Homo sapiens: one gene and its partners. The protein of the gene in region 1 purifies or fractionates together with the protein of each later gene. This does not show direct contact. Each region holds a gene or a part of one and is shown on either strand. Other genes may lie near its edges.

Evidence for each region.
Region 2: the proteins of TYMS (region 1) and ZFYVE19 fractionate together in Homo sapiens (co-fractionation; one large-scale study listed by BioGRID). This does not show direct contact.
Region 3: the proteins of TYMS (region 1) and TPMT fractionate together in Homo sapiens (co-fractionation; one large-scale study listed by BioGRID). This does not show direct contact.
Region 4: the proteins of TYMS (region 1) and WDR1 fractionate together in Homo sapiens (co-fractionation; one large-scale study listed by BioGRID). This does not show direct contact.
Region 5: the proteins of TYMS (region 1) and VPS4B fractionate together in Homo sapiens (co-fractionation; one large-scale study listed by BioGRID). This does not show direct contact.
Region 6: the proteins of TYMS (region 1) and UNK fractionate together in Homo sapiens (co-fractionation; one large-scale study listed by BioGRID). This does not show direct contact.

What each region holds. Positions count from the first base shown.
Region 1 is NC_000018.10:667,653-670,865, reverse strand, and holds part of TYMS (thymidylate synthase), read right to left. Parts: exon of another isoform or gene 3,187-3,213; coding exon of another isoform or gene 3,114-3,186; intron 1,795-3,113; coding exon 1,693-1,794; intron 549-1,692; exon of another isoform or gene 175-548; coding exon 1-174. UniProt on the Homo sapiens protein: Catalyzes the reductive methylation of 2'-deoxyuridine 5'-monophosphate (dUMP) to thymidine 5'-monophosphate (dTMP), using the cosubstrate, 5,10- methylenetetrahydrofolate (CH2H4folate) as a 1-carbon donor and reductant and contributes to the de novo mitochondrial thymidylate biosynthesis pathway.
Region 2 is NC_000015.10:40,810,089-40,812,836, forward strand, and holds part of ZFYVE19 (abscission/NoCut checkpoint regulator), read left to right. Parts: coding exon 1-128; intron 129-299; coding exon of another isoform or gene 300-382; exon of another isoform or gene 383-383; intron 384-560; coding exon 561-669; intron 670-2,610; coding exon 2,611-2,748. UniProt on the Homo sapiens protein: Key regulator of abscission step in cytokinesis: part of the cytokinesis checkpoint, a process required to delay abscission to prevent both premature resolution of intercellular chromosome bridges and accumulation of DNA damage.
Region 3 is NC_000006.12:18,145,078-18,148,577, forward strand, and holds part of TPMT (thiopurine S-methyltransferase), read right to left. Parts: intron 2,839-3,500; coding exon 2,746-2,838; intron 1-2,745. UniProt on the Homo sapiens protein: Catalyzes the S-methylation of thiopurine drugs such as 6-mercaptopurine (also called mercaptopurine, 6-MP or its brand name Purinethol) and 6-thioguanine (also called tioguanine or 6-TG) using S-adenosyl-L-methionine as the methyl donor.
Region 4 is NC_000004.12:10,110,300-10,113,799, forward strand, and holds part of WDR1 (WD repeat-containing protein 1), read right to left. Parts: intron 1-3,500.
Region 5 is NC_000018.10:63,419,677-63,423,668, forward strand, and holds the start of VPS4B (vacuolar protein sorting-associated protein 4B), read right to left. Parts: upstream 2,801-3,992; 5' UTR 2,584-2,800; coding exon 2,557-2,583; intron 1-2,556.
Region 6 is NC_000017.11:75,815,806-75,819,305, forward strand, and holds part of UNK (RING finger protein unkempt homolog), read left to right. Parts: intron 1-964; coding exon 965-1,107; intron 1,108-1,520; coding exon 1,521-1,721; intron 1,722-2,297; coding exon 2,298-2,363; intron 2,364-2,836; coding exon 2,837-3,011; intron 3,012-3,500. UniProt on the Homo sapiens protein: Sequence-specific RNA-binding protein which plays an important role in the establishment and maintenance of the early morphology of cortical neurons during embryonic development.

The DNA of each region.
Region 1 (3,213 bases):
TCAGGCCCGTGATGTGCGCAATCATGTACGTGAGCAGGGCGTAGCTGGCGATGTTGAAAGGCACACCGAGGCCCATGTCTCCCGATCTCTGGTACAGCTGGCAGGACAGCTCACTGTTCACCACATAGAACTGGCAGAGGGCATGGCATGGAGGCAGCGCCATCAGAGGAAGATCTGAGGAACCAGCAGAGGAAGATAAGGAGGGATGGTGGTTTGAAAGACCACAGCTAAAGGCAAAGTAAAACAGGAGAGAAACAGAAGCCAACTCATATGGTGGAGACCAGGAGAGAGAGCCACTGGGCTGCAGTGATGTCCATAACAGCCTCTGCAGCGATGGCACGGAGCTGAGGGAGACTATCCATCGGTGCAAGGTTTCTGCAGGTGTCCATTTACGGCTGAAGCAATGCTCTTCCATCAGAGCTGAAGGGATCTGGGCTACCTCGTGGCACCAGATTACAAATACAGCAGGAATAATTCTGTTTGCCACAGGAAACTGGTGCTTCTGGTACACCCTCCTATATTAAAAGTCTCTATTACATGGCCAGGCACAGTGGCTCATGCCTGAAATCCCAACACTGGGACGCCAGGGTGGGCAGATCACTTGAGGCCAACTTGAGTTCGAGACTAGCCTGGCCAACATAGTGAAACCCCGTCTCTGCTAAAAATACAAAAATTCGCGCGCCTGTGGTCCCAGCTCTGGGGCTGAGGAATGGGAACTCACTTGAACCTGGGAGATGGAGGTTGCCGTGAGCGGAGATCACACCACTGCACTCCAGCCTGGGCAACAGGGTGAGACTGTGTCTCAAAAAAAAAAAAAAAATAAGTCTCTATTACAGATGCAAGTATTTCACTCTAAGTACTTATGATATCCTGATAGAGTTTTGTTGTTGTTGTTGTTTTTAAATATTCAGGGTCTCACTCTGTTGCCCAGGCTGGAGTGCAATGGCGTGATCATGACTCACTACAGCCTCAAATTCCTGGGTTCAAATGATCCTCTCGCCTTGGCCTCTGGAGTTGTTGGAATTACAGGTGTGAGCCACCACACCTGGCTCTACACCCTGGTAGAGTTGAATTTTACAATATAATTGTTAAAAATGTTAGTGAGGTGGCAGCGAGCTGGAACTTCATCTGCTTCCATTTAAAATGTTAACATCTTACATGTAGTTTCTAGGCAATTTAAAACCCTTTTTGGTGTAAGAATGAGTATAAATACACAAATTAAGATCATCTGGTTGGGAGGCTGAGGCAGGCAGATCATCTGAGGTCAGGAGTTCAAGACCAGCCTGACCAACATGGTGAAACCCCGTCTCTACTAAAAATACAAAATTAGCCGGGCATGGTGGCACATGCCTGTAATCCCAGCTACTTGGGAGGCTGAGGCAGGAGAATCACTCGAACCCAGGAGGCAGAGGTTACAGTGAGCCAAGATCACGCCGTTGCATTCCAGCCTGGGCAACAGAGCAAAACTCTGTCTCAAAAAAAAAAAAAAAAAAAAAAAATCCTCTGGGCCCAACCTCATGATCTGAAGGTGAAAGTGCAGCAAAATGTGACTTGCCCAACGTCACACAATCAACCATGTGGCTGGGGGAAGTTCCCAGGGTCCTGCCTCCCTCAGGTGCCTCTGCACAAAACCAGATTGCTTCCCTCTAAGAGTATGGTTAGTATAAATGAAGACGACGGGGTTCTTTCAACCTCTTGGATTCCAAGCGCACATGATGATTCTTCTGTCGTCAGGGTTGGTTTTGATGGTGTCAATCACTCTTTGCAGTTGGTCAACTCCCTGTCCTGAATAATCTGTAGAATTGTCAAAAAGAGAGGACAGGTACATACATTAATCACACATGTCATGAGATGGCCTTAGAGGTCATCTATTACAGTCTCTTACCCAGGGTCCCCCCTTGACCCATGGCTACAAGACATCTGGTGCATCCTGCAAAGTTTGCAGATCTCGGTGGGTTGAGTTCAAGGCCCTGTCTGACTCCTGGCTCTGTCCTCTGGAGCCCTAACAAAGTCTTTTTCCTCTTCTACACAGTCCTTTGAATATTTGGTCTGTCATGGAGTCACCTCCTCCTGTTCCCCCCATAGCTAACCCTTTCCAATCTCAACAATCTTAATTTCTTCCAGTGCTCCTCGCAAACTTAGGCTCTAAACCCATCAGCGATTCTTGTCACAATTTCACTGACAAAATCTACTTTATCCTTGTCTCACAGAGAGTGTTGTATCTTATGTAGAATATAGTATTCCATATACTTTCCAACTAACAGAGGACCATGGATTCCTTTCTATCACCTCAGCAGCATGTTTCCAACACTTCCACCTAAAATTACTTTAGAGTTTAGCAGCTCAACACACGACTGACTTGGAAACATCAGGAAACCTCTGTAATGATTACACCACCTTGTACTTTGCTCCCATTTCTGGTCTCTGGATTTTAATCCCTTTCCTTCCTTCTGAGATGGAACTGGAAGCTGAGAAGTGATTTGTTAACTGAAGTGCAGAGCTTCATAATCTCCTTTGGTTAAATTTCTACCTATTAGTGTCAGACTATATTCTGGTTCAGTAGTTCTCAAAATTTTGGGAGGAAAGTCCTCTCATGGTCACTGTTCCGAAAAAGGTAACATCAAAGATTTTAAAAAGATGAACCTTGGTAGTGTAGTTCTGTAACTTGATTGTAGTGGTTACAAGAGTCTACACGTGCTAAAATTGCAAATACACACATACACAAGTGCACGTAAAACTAGCAAAATCTGACAACTCTGAGGAATGCACCAATGTGAATGTATACAGGATGTTACCCAAGATATTATCACTGGGGGAAACTGGGTAGTGTGTCCAGGGAAACTTTCTGTGCATTAAAAAAAAAAAAAAAAAAATTCCTGTGAATCTGTAAAACAAAATTAAAAACAAAAAGGGACAAACTTTCCTACTAAAATCCAACAGCTAAGCATTCATACCACTGTAAACTAAAACCATAATTTTATTAGGCCTTTTAAGCGACAAGAAATAATTGAATACTAGGCAGGATTTAAAGCATCATTAAGCCCGGGGACTGGCCTCACATCCTACGGACACCCTACAACTGAGGTGCAGGCAACGACCTGCAGAACACTTACCTGCACAAGTAACTTGGCCCACGCAGCAGCTTTTTTCATTGTGATAAAGTACACATAATATTAAACTTGCCATTTTTGTGTGCAATTCAGAAGCATTAAG
Region 2 (2,748 bases), on another chromosome or scaffold:
CAGAGATAGAGGCACGGCTGGCTGCCCTAAAGGATGAACGTCAGGGTTCCATCCCTTCCACCCAGGAAATGGAGGCACGACTTGCAGCGTTGCAGGGCAGAGTTCTACCTTCTCAAACCCCCCAGCCGGTGAGTGTTATGGCTTAGGAGAGAAGCGGGGGTGCTAGCGGGAGGACCCAGCAGAAGCCCAGATACAGGTATTGGGGTGATACAAAAGTAATTGTGGTTTTTGTCATTACTTTTAATTGCAAAAACCTCAGTTACTTTTGCACCAACCTTTGTACTTTATGTACTTTGCAGGAGTTGGCAAAGCCTCCCACCCCTACCTCCTGATCCTCAGGCCTGCTACCAGACCCGGGGACCAGGGACAAACAGCACGATAGGGTAGGGCAGGAAAAAGTGGCCCCTCAGTCCTGTTGGGGACGGCCAGACCTACTTGATTATGTGGGCCCTGGATCCCTCTCCTTTCCCTGGGCTTTGAGAACTACTTAGCATCCATCCCTGACCTAGACTGCTTCTGGGCTACCCCTGCTCTCCACTGAGGTTTCCTCGTCTGTGCAGGCACATCACACACCGGACACCAGGACCCAAGCCCAGCAGACACAGGATCTGCTAACGCAGCTGGCAGCTGAGGTGGCTATCGATGAAAGCTGGAAAGGAGGAGGCCCAGGTAACCCCTCCACTTGGCTCCCTAGGAATCTGCCCTACCTCTTTCCCCAGACTGGAGAGGCTCTGCTGTCCACCCTCTGGGAGATGAATATAAATCGGAGAGTGATCAACGTTATAAGAGTTACCATTCATTGAGTGCTTACTCCAAAGGGAGCCAGTGTAAGCCTAGTGTTTAAGTGCACGGGCTTTAGAATCAGACAGTGATTCCCATTTCTACCACGTATTAGCTGTGTGATGCTGGACAAGTTACTTGACCTAAGTCTCACTTTCCTCATGTGTAAAATGAAGGTATGTATGGAAAAACCTACCTCACAGGGAAATCAGGAGGAGTAAACGAGATAATCCAATAAGTGCTTGGGAACATACCTGACTCATAGTGAGTACTCAGTGAATATTCTCTGCAATCATGATGTTGATAAGGAGGAAGAAGCTATTTAGTAAAACCAGCCACATCTCAATGCTCAGTAGCCATATGGGCTTCATGGCTACCATCTTGGACAGCACAGATATAGAACATGATATGGAATGTTTCCATCATCATAGAACATTCTGTTGGACAGTGCTGTTTGAAGGCTTCAGAGCAGTGGTTTTCAACAAAGGATGATTTTGCCCCCAGGCTACTTGTGGCAACATTTAGAGACTTTTTGGTTGTCACAACCCAGAGGATATTACTGGCACCTACAGGATAGAAGCCAGGGATGCTACTAAATCTACTATGTCACAGGACAGCACATCATGATGAAGAATTACCCGGTCCAAAGTGTCAAGAGAACTAAGATTGAGAAGTCCTGCTTTAGAGGCACAATCTCATTGAATATCCTCAATAATCTTATGAGGCCAGGTGTGGCTCACGCCTGTAATCCTAAGCACTTAAGGAGGCAGAGGCAGGAGGGAGGATAGCTTGAGCTGGGGAATTTAAGACCTGCCTGGGCAACATAGCAAGACTCTGTTTAAAAAAAAAATCTTATAAGGTACATACTATTCTTTTTTATAAATGAGGAAACAGGCCTGGTGAGCTTGAGGAACTTGACCAAGGTCACACAGCTATTAAGCTGCAGAGATGAGACTTAAACCTAAAGCTGTGATTTTAAACCTCTTGCTCTGAAACACTAAACTGAAGGTGACTGTGTCAGAGCCACACCTAATCTGGTAAAATTCTTCCTGCCCAGTGATATACAAGCTCTTAGCTTCCTTCATTGCCCTCTCTGTGCTAATCCCAGGAGATGCTAATTCCTGCCCTGAAAGGCAAAGAGATCGGCTGAACCTGGGCCTTATCATGTCTTGATCCTTTAGGGCAGTGATTCTCAAACCATAGGACGCCCACCCTTAGGGCAGAATGTTAAAATATCAGGTAGATGGGGATGGATGTGGTTGGAAAAGACATGGGTAAAATTATTAGTTTTTTACATTTGGAAAAATGGAGGAATACTAATTTTATTTGTGATAGAAACCATAGGCGCTAGTGCTGAGCAAAAAGCTGATGATCTGTGATTAGAAAGGGTTGAGAAAAGCTGGGCATGATGGCTCACGCCTGTAATCCCAGCACTTTGGGAGGCTGAGGCGGGTGGATCACGAGGTCAGGAGTTGGAGACCAGCCTGACCAACATGTTGAAACCCCGTCTCTACTAAAAATACAAAAATTAGCCGGGCATGGTGTCACGTGCCTGTAATCCCAGTTACTCAGGAGGCTGAGGCAGGAGAATCGCTTGAATCCAGGAGGCAGAGGTTGCAGTGAGCTGAGATTGCACCACTGCACTCCGGCCTGGGTGACAGAGCGAGACTCCATCTCAAAAAAAAAAAAAAAGAAAGAAAGAAAGAAAGAAAGAAAGAAAGAAAAAATTATTAAAGAAAAAGAAAAGAAAAGGTTGAGAAATGGGCTCATTGGCTTCTGAGGAGAGATACTGGGATGTCTCGGCCTTGCTGATGGCATTACCCCTTCCAGCTGCCTCTCTCCAGAATGATCTCAACCAGGGTGGCCCAGGGAGCACTAATTCCAAGAGGCAGGCCAACTGGTCCTTGGAGGAGGAGAAGAGCAGACTGCTGGCTGAGGCAGCACTTGAGTTGCGGGAGGAGAACACGA
Region 3 (3,500 bases), on another chromosome or scaffold:
TCTAGGCACAGTTATGATTTTATGTCAAGTGAAATAAAAACATAGTTCTGCTATAATGTAACAAGTGCCTTCCTAAAATCACTGCACTATGCTAAATCACGCACTAAAAATCCCCAGGCTGGTGGGGAAAGTGAGGGCACAGCATTTAAAAACTTGGTCAGTGCCACATTAAAAAACAAAAACAGGAACCTAATAATAACAGTTTTATACATGTTAAATGGTTGAGAAATAGATAAATACTACAATATGGCACTTTACGGTGAAAAAGACCTAATGCTCACTAAGGTAGCTGGGGGATGTTGGTGCATTCCATCTATTCATACCTGGTTTAGTTCAACTGGGTGCAGTTTTCTGCTTTTACCTAAGGCTTCTTATAGATGAAATCACACACAAGCAAATGTGAAATTTATTTCATGCTCAAATTTTTCCCTAATATATCAATTGAGTTAGAATTCAGTTTTGAAACAAGTATAGCAGGACTGACTGTACCTTTTATCTACAAAAGAGTACGTACTTTCAATGTGGGCAGAGCATGAACTGTTTAGTTGTAAAATGAAACATATAACTTGTCTTTCATCTTTCGTATTTCTTAGGATATCTGTAAACATACAGGGAGTTTAAAAATTCTCCCTACATTTTTTAAGTTATAAAATGTAAACAAAAACATTATTCAAATTGGCTGTATGTGTTTTTATTTCCCATTCAACAGATGGAAAAATGAAGCATAGCCTACTACAACCTGTAATAAAAACAAAATAAGACCAAGTGTGGTGGCTTATGCCTGTTATCCCAGCATGTTGGGAGGGAGGATCTCTTGAGCCCAGGAGTTCAAGGTTGCAGTGAGCTATGATCATGCCACTGCACTCCACCCTGGGTGACAGAGTGGGACTGTCTCAAAAAACCAAAAACCTAAACCTAAATATCTTAAACATTTTGTTTTAATGCTTTTTGGCCTTAGCTCATGGTCAGTTTTTCTATTCACATCTCATGTCTGTATAGACCTCAATACATAGATCAGTTACATAAATGAAAAATCATCTACTATCATAACTTCTTAACTTCTTACATGTAATTACAGTAGCTCAGTTCATATATATATATACATAAAAATAACTGTATTTACGTATATATACATATATATATATTTTTTGGAGACAGAGTCTCACTCTGTCACCTAGGCTGGAGTGCATGGGCTCATTGCAACCTCCGCCTCCTGGATTCAAGCAATTCTCCTGCTTCAGCTTCTCAGGTAGTTGGGATTACAAGCGTACGCTGCCATGCCTGGCTAATTTTTGTATTTTTAGTAGAGATGGGTTTTCACCATGTTGGCCAGGCTGGTCTCGAACTCCTGACCTCAAGTGATCCGCTCACCTAATTAAAGGTGTGAGCCACCGCACCTGGCCAGTTCTGATATTTTTTGTAATGTCTTTATTACAAATGGCTTTAGACCCCAAATATTCAACAATCACATTTAATTGGCTATTTCATACCATTTTCCTAATGTTGCCTCAGAACCTGTTTGTACTACATTGTTACCATTTATGGTGACATCACATGACAATCTGTTTATAGAGTTAATTTTTTTTGAGGGTAATTTTGAAAGTAACTATCTCTTCTGGCTCAATGAATTGGTTAAAATATATGTCATAATATAGTTTAAATATTCTCAATTTCATGACCACACTTGAATCTTAAAGTCATAGCAGCCCTCTAACAAAGGCTCTCAGCTACAGTTGATTGGTTGCTGGCTGCAAAAATTCTATCATCTCTACTTGAAAATCAACTCCCAAAAAATGCATGCATACTCTGCGTTAGTCACCGATATTTATATTCAGAATAGACCATTTTTTAGGTTATTATATTTTACATTTATTAATATTTTATTTTAAATTTATTTTTTGAGGCAGGGTCTATGTTGTCCAGACTGGTCTCAAATTCCTGGGCTCAAGAGATCCTTCTGTCTTGGCCTCCCAAAGTGCTGGGATTACAGGCGGAGGCCACCACACCTGGCGCATTTACTAACCTTTTCATACATTCTTTTTTCTTTCCTGCTCAGTGGTCAAAGTTCTCAACATTCAAGCTTATAAATAAATGCATATCTTGGCAGGTATGATTGTATCTGTATATTATCATTACAAGAGAGTTCAGTATAGAGAATGATGTCGAGGTGACTTTAGGGTAACTCATAGTAAAAGTGGCTTGTTAAAGTGAATTCTCTTTGTAGAGAATTACTCACAAGAAATACTTTCTTAATCACTGGTTTTATAACAATGATTCACGATAACAGAAACTCCTGTGTTCCCTGGTGGGAGGGGAAGGTTGAGCTGAACTGTGGACTATGAACATTGTCCTGCCAAAAAGCTGTAATTCATTTTGAATTTCTCTGTCCACCACCATTTCAAATATCTAAAAATTAACTTAGCTAAATTCCTAAACCACCTACAAAAACTGAACCACATACAAGGATCCAGGAAATGTAAAAGGGAAGGCTGTTTTTTCTCCCCCCATTGGCTCCAAACTGATTTTTTAATTTCAAAACTCAATCCAGAAAGACTTCATACCTGTTTCTGTTGTTTCTTACTGTTTGAGAATATTATTTCCAATTATATACCCATCACTAATAGAAAAATAAGGAATTTCTGTGTATTTCCTGAAAATGGAGTTTTAAAACTCACATCCTGTTAAATCACCCAAAGAATTCATCATTAAGGCAAGATAATTCTGTTAATGTTTATCTGCTCATACCATTTCATCTCAACCGCTTTTCCGCAAAGAGGAAAAAATACCCTCAGTCCACTCTTGCCTTTAAGGAAAGTATCTAAATGCTTCTTTAATAGCCTGAAGAGGAAAAAAAAAAAGGTTTTAGGACAATTGTATGGTAGGTGAACACTTTTCATTCATTATCTCACTTAATATTCCCAACAACCTTAATAAGCAGTTACTATTAATTATTATAATCTCCAGCTTACATATGAAGAAACAGGTAACTTGCTCAGACACACACCCAGTCAGTGGTAAATCTGACTTACACCCAGGGCTTTCCTGATTAGTAATTAAAAATAATTTTTTTTTCTTGGGGATGTTTTGAAAATTCTTTATTAATTCTCTAAATATGTACTATTTTGGGGGTGATGGAGCCTCTGGAGCCATGGATTTTTCAACATTAATTTCATGGTACGTTCTCTAAACGTGTACTCAAGCCTCGGAAGTAAACCTGAGAAGTGTAACTCCTGTAGTTTCTTGTAATTCCCTCTGTGGAGATGTGGCTCTTCTAAGGCCATCCACATGACAGAAATAACCCAGTGTTTCTGGTATGATGATGATGATGATGATGATGTCATCTCCTGGGGAGATGGGCGTGGCTGCCCAGAACAAGGAATGTCTCTAACAACCACTTTACTCAGCACTGGTCCCATGATTTATTGCTGCTATGAAGACTACTACTACATTGCACAACATCCTAACTCACTTTATAATTTCTCGCAACTTCTTTTCTCCCA
Region 4 (3,500 bases), on another chromosome or scaffold:
GGGCCTTGCAGAAGGTGGAGGTCACTCTCCAAAGAAGCATCTCCAACTACTCTTGGGCAAGGCCATCTCTCCAGTAGTCTTACGCATGAGGCTAAACCTCTTCTCTTACCTCAAAGATGGCTTCAGTATCCCTCCCGTTACCTCCAACAGGGCAAGAAATGTACCAAAAGCAACACACAGGAGGCCACAGTGGGGCTGAGAGGACCCAGGTACACATGCTGTTTCCTGCCTGGTTTCTCCCCACCTCTGCCGTGTGTCTCAACGCTCCTCCTGGAGAACTCTTATTCATCCTTCAAGACCCAACTCAAATGTGGCACTTCTCCAGCAGCTGTCCCCGCTCTGTGGCACAGCTGGCTCCTCCCTCACATTCCCAGAGCACCCAGGGCATTGTTCTTTTGAAGCACTTAACCTGGTGCCTTCGAAGGTTCTTTACCAGAGTTTTCAACCTTGGTACCCCTGGCATTTGGGGCTGGACAGTTCTTTGTGGAAGGACGGCCATGTACCTTGTCGGATGTTTGGCCACAACCCTGACTTCAGATACCAGTGGCACAAAAATGTCTGCAAACGTTGCCAGATATCCCTCAGGGGAATGAGGTGGGGGAAATTACCCCTCCCTGAAAATCACTGATTTTAATCCTGGTCCTCTGTGGCTTAGGGTATGGCTTGCCAAGACAGGGGCTTAGTGAACATGTGTGGGAAACGTGAGAGCCAGAGATGGCTGCACCACGCAACGGAACCTGCGCTGACGCCGCCTTCATCTTTGAGCAGCTTCCTAATTGGCTTCCCTGCCTCAGATCTCAGATACAGAACTTCTCCTTACCGTAGGCTGGATCTGATTACTTGTCTGTGAGACCTCTGAATGGCTCCAGTGGCCTTCAGAGCAGGGCTGCGCTATGGTAGGGCTGTGTGAGCCACCTGCCACCACTGCACACCAGCACTTCTCAGCCTGGGTCCTGTCCACTCCCCTCACGCTCAGTGCCACAGTAACAGCCCATAAGCACCCGGCCCTTCGGTCCTCCCAGATGTGGTCCCATCTGCAGAAGCCCAGCGTCCTGACTGGCACCTGCAGCCACTCAGATTCTCCTGAGATGAAGGCCCCCCACCACCCTCTGCTTCCCCTGCCATCAGGTGGTCAGACTGAAGGCCTAGAGGTTCCTGGCTCTGCACCTGGCAGGCGCTGCTGCCAGCTCGTTTGCACCCAGGTGATAATCCAACGCACCACTTCCTTCTGCCACCTAGAGTTTATTTCACTCCCACCCAGGACAGTGAGCTCCATGTGGGCAGGGCCTCCATCCTGCACCCCCACAGGCCAATGGCCATCTGGATACACGCAGGTAGTCAGCAGGCGTCCAATTCCGGAGAAGCAGCTAGGTCAGTCCTCAAGCCCTCTGTCATGCCACCATTACCCCCAACCCGCAGGAAACACAGGTGAGTCCTCTGCATGTGAATGGTGGCAGCTCACACCAAGGGAAACCAAGAGTGAGCCCAATACCCTCCCCAACCCCCCACTTGGTCTGCCCCCTGTTCAAGGAGAAAAGTCCACTGATACTGCGCCTGGGTTCCCAGCAGTGTCAAATTGCTATAAACCTTGCACTCCCGGAAACTCAATTTTATAGACATCATTTTTCCAAATGTGTATTTTAGTTCTGGAATCTAGGAACTGGATACTTTAAAAACCAGGCCCCAAACTTGCCTGCATAGCAAATCTGCTGGCTGCCTGGCAGCACACAAGAGGGCCTCTGTTGTGAGGCAAAAGTTGCTTTTTTTTTTTCTTTTTCTAAACAGGGACTACTGGCACTACTGGCATTTTAGGCTGGGTAATTTTTATTGTAGGATGGTCCCGTGCCCTGTTTAGAATCACAAACAGGTTCGTTCACAGCCATTGGGGGTGACCCTTCCCAGTCTTTGCACAGAGGTCATAAGAGGCAGAGGTGATGCAGGCAGGGTAAGGAAACTTAGAAGGAACCACCCCAGACCTAAGGAGGTACCAGCACCTGCAGGAAGCCTTCCTTAGACCCCCGAAGCACAGACTATCCATCCCTTCTCCGTGGGGAACTAATGTCTCTCAAACACAGTGTACATATGGTTCACTGGAATCCCCTTCTTGGAGCTCTCTCCTTCTGGAATATTAGTTTCTACATGGCCACCATTATAGTCTTTCACTCTACAGAGGAGAGTTGCCTCTCCAGGTGAGGCAACGAGATGTGTTGAAATAAACAGGTAAGAAACACCCTTTTTCTACAAGTTTAAGAAGTGCCATTATGCTGGGTTCACAAAACAGCTTTTAAGTCAACAAAATAAATGACAGAGGGGGCTCCAAGTGCAAAGCTGGCAACGGTGCTCGCCTCTTAGGTATGAAAGGCGATTCCACAAAATTTAGGTCCGGCAATCTACACTGAGCTGAGCTTTCCTTGTTCTCATGCAGTAAGACCTCAGTGGCTGCCTATTATCTTCACGACACAGCCTGGTTTTCCAGGCTTTTTAATCAATGAGTAACTCACTGAGCACCTACTGTGTGCCAGACACTCTCTTAGGCGAGGACACGGCAGTGACTGAAAGAGAGGGGAAAGCCCTGCTGGCCTGGAGCTGATGCCCAGTTAGGGGGACAGGCAGATACCTATGTACACTTGTAGGCAGCCGTAGCCTGCTGCTTGTTAGCTTGCTTCCTACTTATTGTCAGCAATGAGAAAGACAGAAGGCCGGGGATGGAAAATTCTATTCCGGGGACACCCCTCTACTAAGGTGACTACATCTAAGTATAAACCAAAGGGAAAGGCCTAGTGTGGTGGCTCACGCCTGTATCCCAGGACTTTGGGAGGCCAAGGCGAGCGAGCAGATCACTTGAGGTTGGGAGTTCAAGATCAGCCTGGCCAACACGGCGAAACCCCGTTACCTACTAAAAAATACAAAAATTAGCCAGGTGAATTGGCACGTACCTGTAGTCCCCACTACTCGGGAGGCTGAGGCAGGAGATTTGCCTGAACCCGGCAGGTGGAGGTTGCAGTGACCCAAGATCACGCCACCGCACTCCAGCTTGGGCGACAGTAAGCCTCCACCTCAAATTAAAAAAGAAAAACCAAAGAGAAGACAGGGAGCAAGACTTGCAGCTATCTGAGAAAATGTCCAGGCAAAGGCAATAACTAGCAGGTACCAAGACAGATGTGTGGCATGTTCAAGAAGCAGCAAGGAGGCAAGAACGCTGGAGCCGAGGCCACGGTAAGGACTCTGGCTTTCACCGAGGTGGGAAGCCACTAGAGGCCTGTCTTGTGTTTCAGCCACTCCAGCGAGTGTTGTGAACAGACCCCCAGGGCAACAAGGGTGAAAGCAAGGAGACCTGTTTGGTTTTCGGGAGTCTGGGGGCAATAAGTCAGGTGGGGGAAGATAGCTTAGTCGTGGGTGGAGGCAGAGGAAGCCAGGGAAATCTGTTAGATTCTGAAGATACTTTGAATGTGGAGTCAGAAGGATTTACTAAAATTAAAATGTGGCGCAGTAGCGAAGCA
Region 5 (3,992 bases), about 63 Mb from region 1:
AAATGCCTACGTCATGATATGAACTGAAGTGAATGACACAGGCATTGTGACATAGTGTTTCAAAATTATGAACTATTTATTCTAGAATATTTCATTTAAAATTTTTGGACCCAGGTTAACTTCGGGTTATTGAAACTGTGGAAAGTAAAACCACAGGGAAGTGGAGAATACTGTGCAGCTTTATTACATTATATAATTTTGATTTTTAGTTATCTGCATTCCCTCATTAGATTATAAGCATCTGGCCACAGAGATTTTTGCCTTGTTCAGCAGGAAGTTAATCACTACATGAATATTAATCCAAATTTCCTAGGTTAGAAGGTTGAAAAGGTTGAATGAGAAAGCACACATGTGAACCTACCACTAACAAAATTACAATTCAAGATCCTTCCTGCTTAAGAGTAACAATTATGCCTTTCATGTTGGTCAGTCTCTGGCTGATTCACTGAAGAACAGCCAACAGTCCAATTCAAGTATGATGCATTCTGGGGCCGGGCACGGTGGCTCACACCTGTAACCCAGCACTTTGGGAGGCTAAGGCGGGCGGATCACTTGAGGTCAGGAGTTCAAGACCAGCGTGGCCAACATGGTGAAACCCTGTCTCTACTAAAAATAGAAAAAATTAGCCAGGCGTGGTGGCAGGCACCTGTAATCCCAGCTACTCGGGAGGCTGAGGCACAAGAATCACTTGAACCTGGGAGGTGGAGGTTGCAGTGCGCCAAGATCACGCCACTGCACTCCAGTCTGGGCAACAGAGCAAGACTGTCTCAAAACAACAACAACAAAAACCTGCAAATGATGAAGATTATGTTGTAGAGTATCGAAATCACATGCAAAGTCTCTGACAAATGAAAAGCTGGTGGAATAAAAATTGTTAAAAAGCCAACGATGACAAGATGGGCACTTCAGAAGAGTCACCTTTAATACTCAAGGGAAAAATACTTTTACCAAATGACCAACGCTTTTTCCAAATACGTTTACCAAAAAGAACCTTTCCAAATAGGACTACAAAAAGCTACAAAAAACTCAAGTGAAGATTGCTGAATCTTAGTTTAATACAACCTTGGTGAAAAAGATAGTCATCCGGGCACGGTGACTCACGCCTGTAATCCCAGCACTTTGGGAGGCTGAGGTAGGCGGATCACCTGAGGTCAAGAGGCCAGCCTGGGCCAACATGGTGAAACCTCATCTCTACTACTAAAAATACAAAAATTAGCTGGGCGTGGTGGTGGGTGCCTGTAGTCCCAGGTACTCAGGAGGCTGAGGCAAGAGAATCGCTTGAACCTGGGAGGTGGAGGTTGTAGTGAGCTGAAATCACGCCACTGCACTCAAGCCTGGGCGACCGTGCAAGACTCCGTCTCAAAAAAAAAAAAAAAAAGAAAGAAAAGAAAAGGAAAAAAACACAGACAAATCAACACTTGACTTATTCCACAAAATGAGTCATTGTTGCAATTATACAATTATAATATTTTGTGAAAGATAACAATTATTTTAATAATCTTCTAGGTCGATTTTCAAGATGAAAGTCCCAAGCAAGCCTCCTTTCCCACTCTTTTTGTGTATGTGTGTGTGAAATTTTAATCTCTGTTTAAGTGGGTCTACTTTGAGTGGTCTTTCTTCAGAATCAATTATCATGGGTTAAGGAGTTCTTCCATTACCTTTGATGCCTCTGTCAGGCACTCCAATAACTGCTTGTTCAACAAACTACCGGAAGTCCACGACGGGGACTCAATACAAGTATTTTAGGCTACTCTTTTGTGCCTTATTGACTTACTGGACTGGGAGTCCTCTACATTAAGCCACATTACATTCTAAACGCCACTGAAGCCCTAGATCCATTCTGGGGATGGGAGACACCATTACATTAAGAAATTTCTTTTCTGAACGAATTCCATTCCACAGAGGACTAACGATTAAGCCTAAAATCTTAAGATTCCATGATTTGTGTACAAAACACTGTGCTCATTGCGGTAGAGGAGGGGAAGTGGAGCCACACAGAGGTTTAAGAATACTCCTCGATCTTACACACTACCATCTGGGAGCCACAGGAGTGTGCACATAAATTCAATGACTTCACGGAGATTGCATGCAGGCTGGCTGTAATCTCAGATTCTTGGTCTGTTCCCATATCTCTACTCACCTGACAGCTCAGAATGAAGGGGTCTGCTGTCAGCTTGAGAAACTAAGACCGAACTATGACCACCCTATCTTCAACTGGTCCAGAATAGGGCTTTGCAAAAATTACGTTCTTTCTTTCTCCGTTAACCCTGATTGGAGAAACCTGCCCAGATCTTGGCTGGTTTGGAAGCGGGAAGTGTCAACAAAAGTGAAGAGTCTCACAAAGCCAGTAGCTCGGGAGACCCCAAGAGCGGGCCAGAAACGACCTTTCCGTTGGAAAACGGGCCCCTCTCCCACCTGCTGCAGGTCCCCGGACCCGCCCTCCTGCGCCTCGACCACAGGCGCGGCCGCTTCCTCCCTTCTCCCCGCCCCCCACCCGCTTCTCGCGCCTCCCCTCGATCCCAGCTCCCTAGGGGGACGGGAGATGAGCAATGATACCTGGAGGTTGGGCGAAGTGGATGACATGGCGGAGTTCCCAGGCGGTTCCCAAGGGAACGAGGGGCGAGGAGAGCCAACAGCAGCAACGTCGAAGCGCGCACGGGGTAACAGCCCTCAAACTGGGGAGGCCGGTGGTTCTCGGACCGCGAAGGGCAGCCTCCCTTCCGGAACTTGTTTTAGACAACACTCTCTCCACCAGAGCTCCGACCCTCCCCACCAAACTTCCGCAATCCCGAGGCCCTCTAGGTTCTGGTCCCGCCTCTGCTCCGGGCACTTCCGATTTCGTCATCAGCACGCGCACCCAGTCACCAGACTCCCTTCTCTAGCCACAGCGCAGGCCCTCCCTGGGCCGGGAGAAGTAGCCTGGAAGCCAATCGAGCCCTGGCGGAAGTCGGGCTCGGCGCAGGCGCACTGAGACTCTGGCCTAGGCGCGGGCGGCAGCCTGGCAGACCTAGGAGAGCGCAAGCGCGGAAGCACAGAGCCGGGTTTTGTTGTTTGTTTGTTCCCCACCCCCGGGGACGTCTTTTACTTTGAGATGAATTATTGGCCCCGGCTCCCTTCCCTCCTCATCCACATGCTTTGTTGCCTCGTAGCTTTTGAGTGAAAAAGTCGTCCATTTCCAAGACCCGCCGACTGGGGGCTTTGGGCCTGTGACTGCGCCTTCACTCCGTGTCCTCTGTGGAATGGGGGCGATCACCGTCCTCGTCTCGGTGGTGAATAATTCAGGAGGGAGTGCGCGGTGAGGCGGCCGCACAGCGGTGCGCTAGCAGTCAGGCCGCGGGCGGGTCGGCGCTCGTTCCCGCTTGTTCTTCCCACGCCACTCGGCATCTTCCAAATGACTGTTGTGTTGGGAAGATGAATGTAAATAAGGCGTGGACGGCCGCTGTCCTCGAGTATGTGGTCTGAGAGGGAAGCACTTGTCCTGTAAAATGGGCATATCAGATATTATTTATGCCAGTTATGTTTACAAGCAAATGGCTTGAGGAGGTTGAATGCGTCAGGGATTAGAGGCAGAACCAAAGTAAAACCCTTTCTCAGCCTTCCTATGGTTTGCAGCCACCACCACCCTTTTCTTCTTTTCATAGTTAACATTCTCAAAGGAAAGCAACATAGATGTTTAATCACTCCATCATTTTTTTCTCACTCATTTCTTAATTTTTTCTCATCTGGCATCTCCGAAAGAATTAAAGTCCTCTCCTCTTCCCTCTTCATTGGTATTGTCAACTACCCAGTTCTTGTTTGTCCAGCTTCCCAATATTCCTTATCTGCTTCCTTCACTGTCTCCCTTTCTTACTCCTCCCTGAGCTTAAGCTGAATTTACTCAAGAGTCTGATGTCCTCTTCTCTCTTCACCTCTGCTCATCTAACTCTCTTCTTGAGCTTCAGCTATCAATAGACTAGAAATTGCTTCAAATCTGGATCTCTAGACCCACCCCA
Region 6 (3,500 bases), on another chromosome or scaffold:
AACCCAGGAAGCAGAGGTTGCAGTGAGCCGAGATCATGCCGCCGCACTCCAGCCTGGGCAACAGGGCGAGACTCTGTCTTAAAAAAAAAAAAAAAAAAAAATTAAAAAAGAATTAAACATTGGAAAATATGTTGTTAAATTAATTTTAATAACATATTTGTATTTAGCCCAACATAAAAGGTTATTTCAATAATCAATATACAAAAATATCAAGACATTTCACCTTTTTTTGTACTAAGTCTATGAGATCTGATAGCATTTTAATGCCTACGGGATATTTCCATTCAGACCAGCCTGTTTCAGGGGCTCAGTAGCCACATGTGGCTTTCGGCTGCCTTGTGGGACAGTGTGGGTCTGGATCCTCAGCATGATACTGTAGGCCGCCACCAGTCTCAGAGACAGAGCTCCAGTTTGTACCTGTTAACACCTCTTTCCACCCCAAGATACTGCCCTGGGTCTCCTTAACCTCTTTCCAGGCTCAGGCCCTATCTCTGAGATGAGAATGGAAAATAAATCGAGGGCCCTGGGCGGGAGAAGCATATTCTTGATGCAGAGGTGGTCCCCGGCCATGGGCATTGGGACCGCCTGGCTGAGACGGCATAAGGAAGTGATTCAGGCTTTGGAGTTGTACAGATCAGCGTTCAAGACCCAGCTCCTCTGTGTTTTAGCTCTGTCACTTTGGTGGGTTTACCTTACCTCTCTGAGCCTCAGTTTTCTTATTTATAAAATGGAGACCATATTACTGGTATCTTCTGGTCACCATGAAGATTCACAATTACTGCAAAGTGCTGGCACAGTGCCTGGCACACAGTAAATGCACAGACATGGTGTTACTAGAGATGTCGTAGGAACCTTCCCTTTATGTGCAGGGGGATTTGTGGTCTCCTTTGGAAGGGACCCAGGAGCATTTTTGGAGGGACAGAGCTGGCTGGGGCCTGCTGACCCCTGCCCCTGACTCTTGCAGAGCCACCCCTGAGTGACGACCTGCAGCCTTCCTCAGCTGTGTCCAGCCCCACCCAGCCAGGTCCTGTCCTGTACATGCCATCTGCCGCCGGAGACTCGGTGCCTGTGAGCCCCTCCAGCCCGCATGCCCCTGACCTCAGTGCCGTACGTGTCCATCCTGGGGAGTGGGTGGGCACCATGCCTGACAGAGCCAATACTTGCCTCCTAGGCCCTTTCAGCCTGGGCTTGGGAGACCATCCTGGTATTTGTCCTCAGGCCAGGGGGATCTGTCTTTTCCATCTCAGCATTCTTCGTCAAAAGTCCAGGCCCGGGGGTGGGGTAGGGCAGTCCCCAGAGCCTGTGCTGATGAGCCTGTAGGACTGGTGGCAGGGACAAAGCCTGAGGTCACTCCCCTTTCCTTCGTGAGCTTCGGGCTCCCCGAGTGGTCACTGCTGCTCGTTGGCAGATGAAAGTGGAACTGAGCCCCTTGAAGACTCCCTCTGGAGAGGGTGGAGGATGGGCCACGCACCAGCCTGCGCTGTGCCCACGGGCCCACTCCCTCCCCTCCTTCTCCGCAGCTCCTCTGTAGAAACAGCAGCCTAGGCAGCCCGTCTAACCTCTGCGGCTCCCCACCGGGCTCCATCAGGAAGCCCCCAAACCTGGAGGGCATCGTCTTCCCTGGGGAGTCTGGCCTGGCCCCTGGCAGCTATAAGAAGGCTCCCGGCTTCGAGAGGGAAGACCAGGTGGGAGCCGAGTACCTGAAAAATTTCAAATGCCAGGTAAGGGATGAGGGAGGCAGCAGTGAGGTTAGCCTTCTCCTGCGTGGGGCAAGAGAATCTTGGAGGAGTGTCTTGGTCCAGCTACGGGGAGGATGACTGGGAGCTAGGACTCCACTGTCCTCGGCCTCTTCAGGACTGAACAGAGGGAGCAGTGTCAGCCCATTTGCAGCTGAAGACAGGAAGGCTGGGGAGGCTGCATAGCCTCCCCTGGGCTGCAGAGCTGGTTAGGAGAGGAGCCAGATCCCGCCTGGGTGCGGTCCTTCGGCTGCCCTGAACTGCCTTCATGGAAAGACAGGGCCTGGGGAAGCAGGACACAGGGGTCCCTAACTGGGCCTGGAGAGATACCTTCTGGGCTTACATGAGGCCTAGTGTCACCGGGAGGAGAAGGGCAGCTCCCTGCTTAGGGTAGGGGAAGGGAGTAGGGGGTGGGGAGGAAGAAGGGGGTGTGTGCATGCATGTGAAGAGGGGTTGCATGTCTGCCACCACCTGCCCCCTGGTACCTGCAGCCTCAGGGTCAGATGGACTCAGGGACCCCCCAGCACCACATTCATCCACTCCCTGAATTTTCTCTCTCAGGCCAAATTAAAACCCCACTCATTAGAGCCCAGGAGTCAAGAGCAGCCTCTGCTTCAGCCCAAACAGGTATAGAGCTCTCAGCCCCCTTCCTCCCCTCTGCTGTGGACAGGAGTGGCCCAGAACCCCAGGAGGCTTCGGGGAGTGGGAGGCACCACTTTTCCCAAAAGCTGAGGGCAGGACTAAAGTGGGGTCCCAGCCACAAATCCAGAGAGGGTAGGGGGTCAGGCCCTGGAGCCCCTCACCTCCTAGACTCAGTGGAGAAGGTGTTCCTGGAGCCTCTGCACTCTGCCAGGCCCTGTACTCGCTTCTCTCTTCCCTGCTACAGGACTGTAGGGGCGAATGGGCCTGGCAGCCTCCGCACCTCCAACTCCATGCTCTCAACAAGGTGTCGGGTGTGCCGGGGCCCATGTGGGCATGGGGGCACCCGGACTAGAGCTAGCACGGGCCATTTCCCTTGCCCCCAGCCCCTCTCCAGCCTCTCGTCCTGGCCTCCGTATGCAGGCCTACCATTGCTTCTCCTCTTCCCTCTCTCGTTGCAGGACATGCTGGGCATCCTCCCCGCAGGCAGCCCCCTGACCTCAAGCATCTCTTCTAGTATCACCTCCAGCCTGGCAGCTACCCCCCCTAGCCCAGTGGGCACCAGCAGCGTCCCCGGCATGAATGCAAACGCTCTGCCCTTCTACCCCACCAGCGACACGGTAGAGTCAGTCATAGGTAACTAGGCCATTTCTGTTTGAAAGCCCAGGACTGGGTCTGGGGTCAGAGACCCCCCAGTCTCTGAAGCGAGTCTCAAATCAGCACACCAGACCCCTTAGACATCTGTCTTCGGAAAATCAGGGGATGGGCACTCTGAGTCCTTTGAGCTAAAGGGGAAATGACCCCAAGGTGTAGGGCCAGGACTGACCCTTAGAGCTCCTTTGTGCAAATTAGAAAGAGGTGCCTTTTCCCCTTGGTGAGTACAGTCTCACCCCAAGACGTGTTGTTCAGTCCCCACTCATCTCACTGGTGTCCTTGTGTAGTGAATGGCCAGCACGACGTTCTCAGAATCCCTGGTGCTAGAAGTTGGTGCTCCTTTCTTTCAGTACTCATTTCTAGGTGCCCGCTTTGTGCCAGGTCCTGTGGCAGGCACTGAGGAGACAGATGACAACATGCTGCTCCTGCCCTCTAGAGGGAAACTTCCCACCCAGTGGACATTTGTCAAGC